2 separate regions of the Homo sapiens genome follow, and region 2 is linked to region 1. Evidence: fine-mapped expression QTL. Tissue or cell type: skeletal muscle. Region 1 holds a variant in brackets; the other region holds the start of a gene. All regions are shown on one strand. Distances are between the middles of the regions.

What was found. PIP is the estimated chance that this variant, and not a neighbour inherited with it, causes the effect.
Region 2: it holds the start of ZZEF1, and the variant in region 1 is fine-mapped to the expression of ZZEF1 in skeletal muscle (GTEx, PIP 0.96). The same link has a PIP of 0.9 or more in Th17 cells.

The regions. Positions count from the first base shown.
Region 1 is chr17:3,997,058-4,001,675 of GRCh38, reverse strand. No RefSeq gene overlaps it. Among named protein-coding and RNA genes, the nearest start is that of LINC01975, 22 kb to the right of the region's middle. The variant A/T (reference allele first, on the strand shown) is at 2,320.
Region 2 is chr17:4,140,569-4,144,877 of GRCh38, reverse strand. It overlaps ZZEF1 (zinc finger ZZ-type and EF-hand domain containing 1), which reads left to right and starts at 1,848. Exons shown (of 55, transcript NM_015113.4): 1 at 1,848-2,336. The coding sequence starts at 1,983. It overlaps CYB5D2 (cytochrome b5 domain containing 2), which reads right to left and starts at 1,681. Exons shown (of 4, transcript NM_144611.4): 1 at 873-1,681. The coding sequence starts at 1,122. RefSeq lists enhancers at 833-1,412, 983-1,535, 1,563-1,872, 1,536-2,087 and a silencer at 1,953-2,122.

The DNA of each region.
Region 1 (4,618 bases):
CCTAGAACTACCCATCTCCAGGAGGTGGCAAGGTGTCCTCTCACCTCAGCGGAAAGTATTTCTGACCCAACTTTATGCAACAATTTGGCTCCAGTAGGTTGAAATAATGTCACAGCTCTCTTCTCATGACATTAAATATGGACAGTATATGGAAAGGAAATGTAAAAATTCCAGAAATAAAAAGGCCTCCAACAGTGTCCAGTCAAGCCACAGATGGCATCCAGTTGCTCCATTACCAAATTCTCCTTCTCTCTTGGGGTTCTTGGCGTACGTAGCTTTGCTCATGCCCAACCAGCTTCTAGACTTCCTATCTGGAGGCGCTGTCCCAGGATTCGTTGGGATTTCTTCAGTTGCAAGTTAAAGACACTCCAAACTAACTTAACACGGAAATGGATTGACTTACAAAACCGAAAAGCCCGAGGGTTGCCTCTAGCCCCAGGCAAAGCTAAATTCCAGGGACTCAAAGATGTCGGCTCCCTCTCTCTCCCGCCCTCCATCCTGCCTCTTCCTCCTCTTCCTCCTCCGCTCATTCTCCTGCCCTGCTTCCACCTGGGTTTTCAGGCAGGTGAGGGCGAAAATTAAAGCACCAGGTGATGGCTCTCTCCTCTTCCTCGCGGCCACTGACCACCTCTGATTCCCCAGTGGAGAGGGCTTCTCACTCTCTCTTCATGTGAGGCTTCCCAAGCTGTTGGCTGGTATCTTCTAGCCGTGAGTTAATTTACTGTTTTTTGTTTGTTTGTTTTGTTTGTTTGTTTGAGACCGAGTCTCACTGTCACCCAGGGTGGAGTGCAGTGGCGCGATCTCGGCTCACTGAAACATCCACCTCCCGGGTTCAAGCGATTCTCCTGCCTCAGTCTCCCGAGTAGCTGGGATTACAGGTGCCTGCCACCACACCTGGCTAATTTTTTGTCTTTTTAGTAGAGATGGGGTTTCACCATGTTAGCCAGGATGGTCTCGATCTCCTGATCTCATGATCCACCCGCCTCGGCCTCCCAAAGTGCTGGGATTACAGGTGTAAGCCACCACACCCGGCCAATTTACTGTTTTAAAAGCTACCTGGGAGACCCATGAGTTTGTGTTGTCACCTCAGAATTGCTGAGCAACACAGCATCCATGACAATGGCAGAAGTACCCACGCAGCCACTGTGAGCCTCGTCAACACATCAGCTGGACCACTCAACCACTCGGCCAGGCAAGATGCCCCCAGATGTGGCAGGCAGCTTATCCACTAGTGAGTTTAGAAATTTGCAACAGAAGTGGAGAGACAGACATTTAAAACAACTGATCTTAAGACCAGAAAAAGGTGAAATGCAGAAGAATGAGCACATGTCTATCAAGCAGATGCAAACAGAAAATCAGAGTTATTCAGCATCAGGCAATATAATTTGAGACAAAATTAAACTGGGCAAGGCCAGGCATGGTGGCTCACGCCTGTAATCCCAGCACTTTGGGAGTCCGAGGTGGGGGGGATCACTTGAGGTAAGGAGTTCAAGACCAGCCTGGCTAACATGGTGAAACCCCATCTCCACTAAAAATACAAAAATTAGCCGGGCGTGGTGGCGGGCGCCTGTAATCCCAGCTACTTGGGAGGCTGAGTCACGAGAACTGCTTGAACCTGGGAGATGGAGTTTGCAGTGAGCCAAGATCACGCCATTGCACTCCAGCCTGGGCAACAAGAGCAAAATTGCGTCTCAAAAAAAAAAAGGTAGTTCTTCAGGCTAAAAGCAAGTTACCCCGGATGGCAATTTGAATCCACAAAAAGCACTGGTAAAAGTAATTATGCAATTATAAAAGACAGTATAAATTCATTTTTCTTCTCAACTGATTTAAAAAGCAACTGTATAAATATGAATATAACATATTGTTAGGCCTATTACATATAAAATGTAGTATATTTACCAAAAGCAAGACAAGAAAGGTGGGTGGGAGCAAAGCTGTACTGGGCTAAGGAAATGACTCCAGATGTCACTCAAATCCACGAGAAGAAATGAAGAGAACTAGAAATTATTTTATTTATTTATTTTTTGAGACGGAGTCTCGCTCTGTCGCCCAGGCTGGAGTGCAGTGGCGCGATCTCGGCTTACTACAACCTCCACCTCCCGGGTTCACGCCATTCTCCTGCCTCAGCCTCCCAAGTAGCTGGGACTACAGGCGCCGCCACCACACCTGGCTATCGTATTTTTAGTAGAGACGGAGTTTCACCATGTTAGCCAGGCTGGTCTGAAACTCCTGACCTCAAGTGATCCCCCCGCCTCGGCCTCCCAAGGTGCTGGGATTACAGGCATGAGCCACCGTGCCCGGCCTAGAAATTATTTTTTT[A/T]AAAAAGAGGATTAATATAATAAAAGCTGTATATACTTATTCTCCTTTTTCTCTCAGCTTCTGTAGAAAACATAAAATTATTTAAAGTAATGATTATAACAACTTATTGTTGGGCTTGTAACATTTATAGATGTGATAGTTATAACAACAATGCCACAAAAAGGAGAGAAAGGGAAAAAAGCTACATAGGAGTCATGTTTCTACATCTCATTAAAATTAAAGTTAATATAAATCTTAAGCTGAGGCTGGGCGCGGTGGCACATGCCTGTAATCCCAGCACTTTGGAAGGCTGAGGCAGGTGGATCACCTGAGGTCAGGAATTTGAGACCAGCTTGACCAACATGGCAAAACCCTGTCTCTACTAAAAAAAAAATACAAAAATTAGCCAGGCATGATGGCACACACCTGTAGTCCCAGCTACTTGGGAGGCTGAGACAGGAGAATTGCTTGAACCTGGGAGGCAGAGGTTGCAGTGAGCCGATATTGCGCCACTGTACTCCAGCCTGGGTGACAGAGCGAGACTCTATTTCAAAAATAAATAAATAAATAAATCAGAAGCTGATTCTAGTAAGTTAAAATGTATAGCCAGGTGCAATGGATCAGGCCTGTAATCCCAGCACTTTAGGAGCCCAAGGCAAGAGGATGAATCGCTTGAGCTCAGGGGTTGGAGACCAGCCTGGGAAACATAGTGAGACCTCATCTCTATAAAAAATAAACAAAATTAGCCAGGCATGGTGGTGCTTGCCTGTAGTCCCAGCTGCTCGGGCGACTGAGGTAGGAGGATTGCTTAAGCCCAGCACATCAAGTCTGTGGTGAGCCATGATAATGCCACTGTTTTCCAGCCTGGGTGACAGAGTGAGACGCTGTCTCAAAAAAAAAAAAAAAAGTATATAAAACCCTAGATCAACAACTAAGAAAATGCCAAAAATATACTTCAAAAAAATCATCATAGAAATGTAAATGCTACCTTAGAAAATATTCACTTAATGCAAAGGAAAGCAGTGAAGGAAGAATGAGGAACAGAAAAGACTTGAGACATAGAAAACAAAAAGTAAAATGGCGGCATAAATCCAACTATACCAATAATATTAAATGTAAATGGATTAAACAATGTAATCAAAAGGAAGATTATTGTACTGGATAAAAAAAAAGATTCGACCAGGCACGGTGGCTCACGCCTGTAATCCCAGCACTTTAGGAGGCCGAGGCGGGCAGATCACGAGGTCAGGAGATCAAGACCATCCTGGCTAACATGGTGAAACCCCATCTCTACTAAATATACAAAAAATTAGCCGGGTGTGGTGGCGAGTGCCTGTAGTCCCAGCTACTCAGGAGGCTGAGGCAGGAGAATGGCGTGAACCCGGGAGGTGGAGGTTGCAGTGAGCCGAGATCGCGCCACTGCACTCCAGCCTGGGCGACAGAGCGAGACTCCATCTCAAAAAATAAAAAATAAAAACACAAGGTTCTACTATATGCTGTCCATGGAGAAACATTTTAGATTTAAAAGCACAAATAGATGAAAAGCAAAAGAATAAAAAAAAGATATATCATGCAAAGGGCAATCACAAGAAAGCTGAAGTGGCTATAGTTTTATCAGACAAAATAGACTTTAAAACAAAAAAAATGCTTCTAGGGACATTTTAGAATTATAAAAGGGTCAATCCATCAGGTAAATATAACAATTATAAATATATATGCACCTAGTAACAGAGCACCAAAGCACATGAAGCAAAAACTGACGGAAATGAAGCGGGGAATAGATAACTCAGCAATGATAGCTGGAGACCTCAAGACCCCACTTTCAGTAGTGGATAGAAGTAGCCAGGAGACACTGTGGAAGGCCGCAGGGTCCTCTGCCTAGGAAAACCAGAGACCTTTGTTCACTTGTTTATCTGCTGACCTTCCCTCCACTATTGTCCTATGACCCTGCCAAATCCCCCTCTGCGAGAAACACCCAAGAATGATCAATTAAAAAAAAAAAAGAAAAAAAAAAAAAAAAAAAGAAGTAGCCAGGAGATCAACAAGGAAATTGAACATCATTTATGTATTTATTTTAGAATAAGTCTCACTATGCTGCCCAAGCAGATCTTGAACTTATGGGCTCAAGCAATCCTCCTACTTCGGTCTCACAAGTAGCATGAAAATTGAAGACTTAAACAACACTATGAACCAATTTGACTTGATGGATGTCTATAGAACACTCTACCCAACAAAAGCAGAATATACATTTTCTCAAGTGCTCATGGAATATTACCCAGAACAGACCCTATTCTAGGCGATAGCAAACCTCAATATATTT
Region 2 (4,309 bases), 140 kb before region 1:
GAGGCAGAGCTTGCAGTGAGCCGAGATCAGGCCACTGCACTCCAGCCTGGGCGACACAGCGAGATTCCATCTTTAAAAAAAAAGCACTAGACTGGTGGTCCGAGTCCATATTCTGTCAGTATTCAGGTGTGAGGGTTTCAGGCAAATCGCATCCTTTAACCCCCTCAGCTGTAACACAGGGACACCAGCATAAACTTAATTTGACAAATGTTTCTTGAGGCCTAACATATGCACAACTTTGGTCTACGTATCAAGGACTGTAAAGGTGACTGGACCCCTTTCCTCTGCCCTAACCTTCTAAGGAAGGCAAACAGGTGCATCTTGTACTAGAAGCAGGAATGACTCAGACCAAATGTACTATATGACGGGCCATAAAGGAATAAAGTATTGATGCATGCTCATAAACCATGGATGAACCTTGAAAACACTATGCTTAGGGGTGGGGGGAAGAAAGATTATTTGGGACCAGGGCATAATGAAGAGATGGTTGGAATTATTAAGGAAACTGTGAGGGTAGGGGCGGGGCGGGATCTCGTTTATCTGTGCCCTAAGAGCCCCCACAAAAGTCCGGCACACAGCCCGTATCCTAGGGCTTCCGACGCTGGGTAATGGGTAACAAGAGACAGAAGACATGTTTCTCCAATGTAAGTCACGCAGGGCGGTGGTGGATGACAGAGCTGGCCCACAGTCCCGCCAGAGCCAGAGAGCCTAGAAGGATAGTGCATGCAGCTCGTCCCGCCCACCGCACGGGTTTGATGGATGTGGGGTGGGGATGGGGGGGGAAATAGATGAATAATGAACCAACGAACGACGCGCAGGTGGCTACTGGCTCGCGCCAGCGGAGAGAAAGGCGTGAGCAGCCTCGCTGATACCTGCGAAGCCGCTATAGTGGGACCCAGGCTCGTAGTGCCTCCGGCCGGAGGACACATCGTAGACACGGCCGAGCAACGCCAAGTACAGGCCCGGGTCCCCTGGGCCGCCGCGGTAGCGAGACAGCTCCTCCGGTATGAAAAGGCGAAAGCCAGCGCGGGGACCCCACCAGCCCATAAGCCGTGCTGCCATTACCGCTGCTGCGGCTACAGCCAGGCCCAACAAAAGCCCACGGCCTCCGCACCTCAACATCTATATAGGCCCACCCGCTCCGCACTTCCGAGGTTGCCGCCTCTATCTACAGCTAAGATGGCCGAGACGCCGAGCGTGACGTCATCGGCGCGCGCGCTCTCGCTCTCTCTCTCGCGCGCTAGTGCTCGCGCTCCCTCCCTTAGTCTCTCTCGTTTTATCTGTATTCCTGGCACTGGCGAAAAGCTCGCTGTCTGCGACTTTTTCCAGGTACTTTTTTTTTTTTTTTCTGAGACAGAGTTTTAGCTCTTGTTGTCCAGGCTGGAGTGCACTGGCGGAATCTCGGCTCACTGCAACCTCCGCCTCCCGGGTTCAAGCGATTCTCCTGCCTCAGCCTCCCAAGTAGCTGGGATTACAGGCACGCGCCCCCACGTCCGGCTAATATTTTGTATTTAGTAGAGACAGGGTTTCACCACGTTGGTCAGGCTGGTCTCGAACTCCTGACCTCAGGTGATCCACCCGTCTCGGCCTCCCAAAGTGCTGGGATTACAGGCGTGAGCCACCGCGCCTGGCCCTTCTCGTACTTCTTGGCTTGCAGGTTGTCAGCCCCAACAAAGATGGCGGCAGCGGAGGCTACGGAATGACGTAGATACTGAGACAGACTCGTCCTCTGGGAAATCAAGGTTGCACCCTTTGAGGCGGCGCTCCCCGCCTAGCTGTCGTGAGTTGGTAGAGGCCGCCTATCTACGTGACGGCGCCTTTGCGACAGCGGTCGTCGCTTGACGGCCAGGAAGCCGGAAGCCGCAGGGGCCGCCGTCGTCTCCTCCGCGTCCCCGCCCGCCAGCTGCTGTCGGAGGTTGACAGGTCGAGGCGGGGAGGCGGCGGCGGCGGCTGCAGAGCCAGGCGCCCAAGACGGAGACCCCATGGGGAACGCTCCGAGTCACAGCAGTGAAGACGAAGCGGCAGCTGCCGGTGGCGAGGGCTGGGGCCCACACCAGGACTGGGCCGCGGTCTCGGGCACGACCCCCGGCCCGGGCGTCGCGGCTCCAGCGCTACCACCCGCCGCGGCGCTGCTGGAGCCGGCCAGGCTGCGAGAGGCTGCTGCAGCGTTGCTGCCCACACCCCCCTGCGAGTCGCTGGTGTCGAGGCATCGCGGCGCGTTGTTTCGCTGGCTGGAAGAGCGGCTGGGCCGCGGCGAAGAGTCTGTCACTCTGGAGCAGTTCCGGGAGCTGCTGGAGGCTCGCGGCGCCGGCTGCTCTAGCGAGCAGTTCGAGGAGGTCAGGGCCGGCAGGCGACTGCGGGGATGGGGCAGGGCGGTCGCCCCCAGGGGACTGAAGGAAGAGGTGGGCATTTGCTTTGGAGAGGCCAGGCGGGGACCCATATGAGGTGTTTCCAGCTTTTCACCAGGCGTTTGCTTCGTTTCTCTTTAACCTATGTTAGAGGTCTGGAAAGTCTGCATCAGGCCGTCCTTGCTCTGAAGAGCTGGACAAGCCCATATGTCTCTCTCTGTATGTTGTAATGCAGACCTTTGTGCAGTTGATTGACGCTACTCTGGAGATCTTCTATCAGATTCTCGAACAGTTTGGAGAGAAAAGAGATGTAAGGATAGGAGGAGTGGCGCTGAGAACCATTTTTTGTATTGTCCTGTCCAGGTTTTTACACAGCACCTTCCCAATTCAGTGTGGGCGCCGAATAAGTGTGGAAAGACAGTAGTAACATGCTGGAAAGGCTCACATTCTAAAACCTATCCTCCTCATGCAAAAACTAGCTTTTCTAAAATACATACTGGTTTGTAGATCCTTAAAGAACCATATATTAGACTCATTTAAACCTTCATAGGATCCGAAACTGATAGGCAAATACCAGGTTTCCTGTGAATACTTGTAATTATGCAGTTCTTCATATAATCACCAAGATCATGTCTGCTAAGTCATTAAGAGAGCAAATTGATTTGGCAACAAAATATTTTCCTTGGAAGGCATTTTGGGAGTTTATTTACTGGGCGCTTCACTTCGAGTTAAGAAGACTGATCCAGGGTTACCCAGTGAATCATTAGTAAAACAGACTATCAACTAGATCTCTTGCTTTTTTTTTTTTTCTTTCTTTCAACTTTTATTTTAAATTCAGGCGTACATGTGCAGGATTTGGATTTGCAGATGTATTACATAGGTAAACGTGTGCCATGGTGGTTTACTCCACACAGCATCCCATCACCCAGGTATTAAGCCCAGCATCCATTAGGTATTCTTCCTGATGCTCTCTCTCCCTCCACCCGCACCCTATTTTTTGTTTTTAATGTCTCACTACCTCCTTCCTGGGATCCTATTTCTTTTAACACCACGGTATGACCAAAAAGGTACTTATTTTGTGAAAATGAGTTAGCCAGTCATGTAGAATCTTCAGTGGCCACGAAGGGTGTGTACATAAAGCAGTAAACCAGCGGGTACTTGCAGTGCCTTTAAAAGGTTCTGTTCACCTTAAAATCAGAGGCTTTTAAAATATTTTAAGAATGTCTTCCTGTACATGGCCAGAATTCAGATAATGTAGTTTGTGTGTTTCTTATGAAAAAAGTACCTTTAAGGCATCCCAACCCTTAAAAATAATAGTCATGGCTGGGCGCAGTGGCTCACGCCTGTAATCCCAGCACTTTGGGAGGCTGAGGCGGGAGGATCATCTGAGGTCAGGAATTCAAGACCAGCCTGGCCAACGTGGTGAAACCCCACCTCTACTAAAAATACAAAAATTAGCTGGGCATGGTGGCGGGTGCCTGTAATCCCAGCTACTTGGGAGGCTGAGGTGGGACAACCGCTTGAACCCAGGAGGCGGAGGTTGCAGTGAGCTGAGATCACGCCACTGCATTCCAGCCTGGGCCTCAGAGCGATACTCTGTCTCAAAAAAAAAAAAAAAAGTCATATTAGTTAGTGAAAGATCTCCTTTTTTTTTCCCCCCAGGAATACACATAGTACCTTCTTTCTAGTATCTACGCGTATTATGAGAATATGAAGTAGTAGTGGGAAGAACCATGCAGAACTGTTGAAGGAGATGGCACTTTGCAGATTTGAGCAAAGGCAAATGGAGAGAAACACCGTTTACATTCTGAGAGTTTCTGACAGAAATAGAACTTTATGTAGAGTTCATAGGAGTCCCTTAATAGAAGGTCAAGAAATACTTGAGGTGTGGTCCAGAAATCACTCAGGGGTTGTGGCATTATTGTTCACTGAGCAAATGTTTATTGGGCGTATATCGAGTG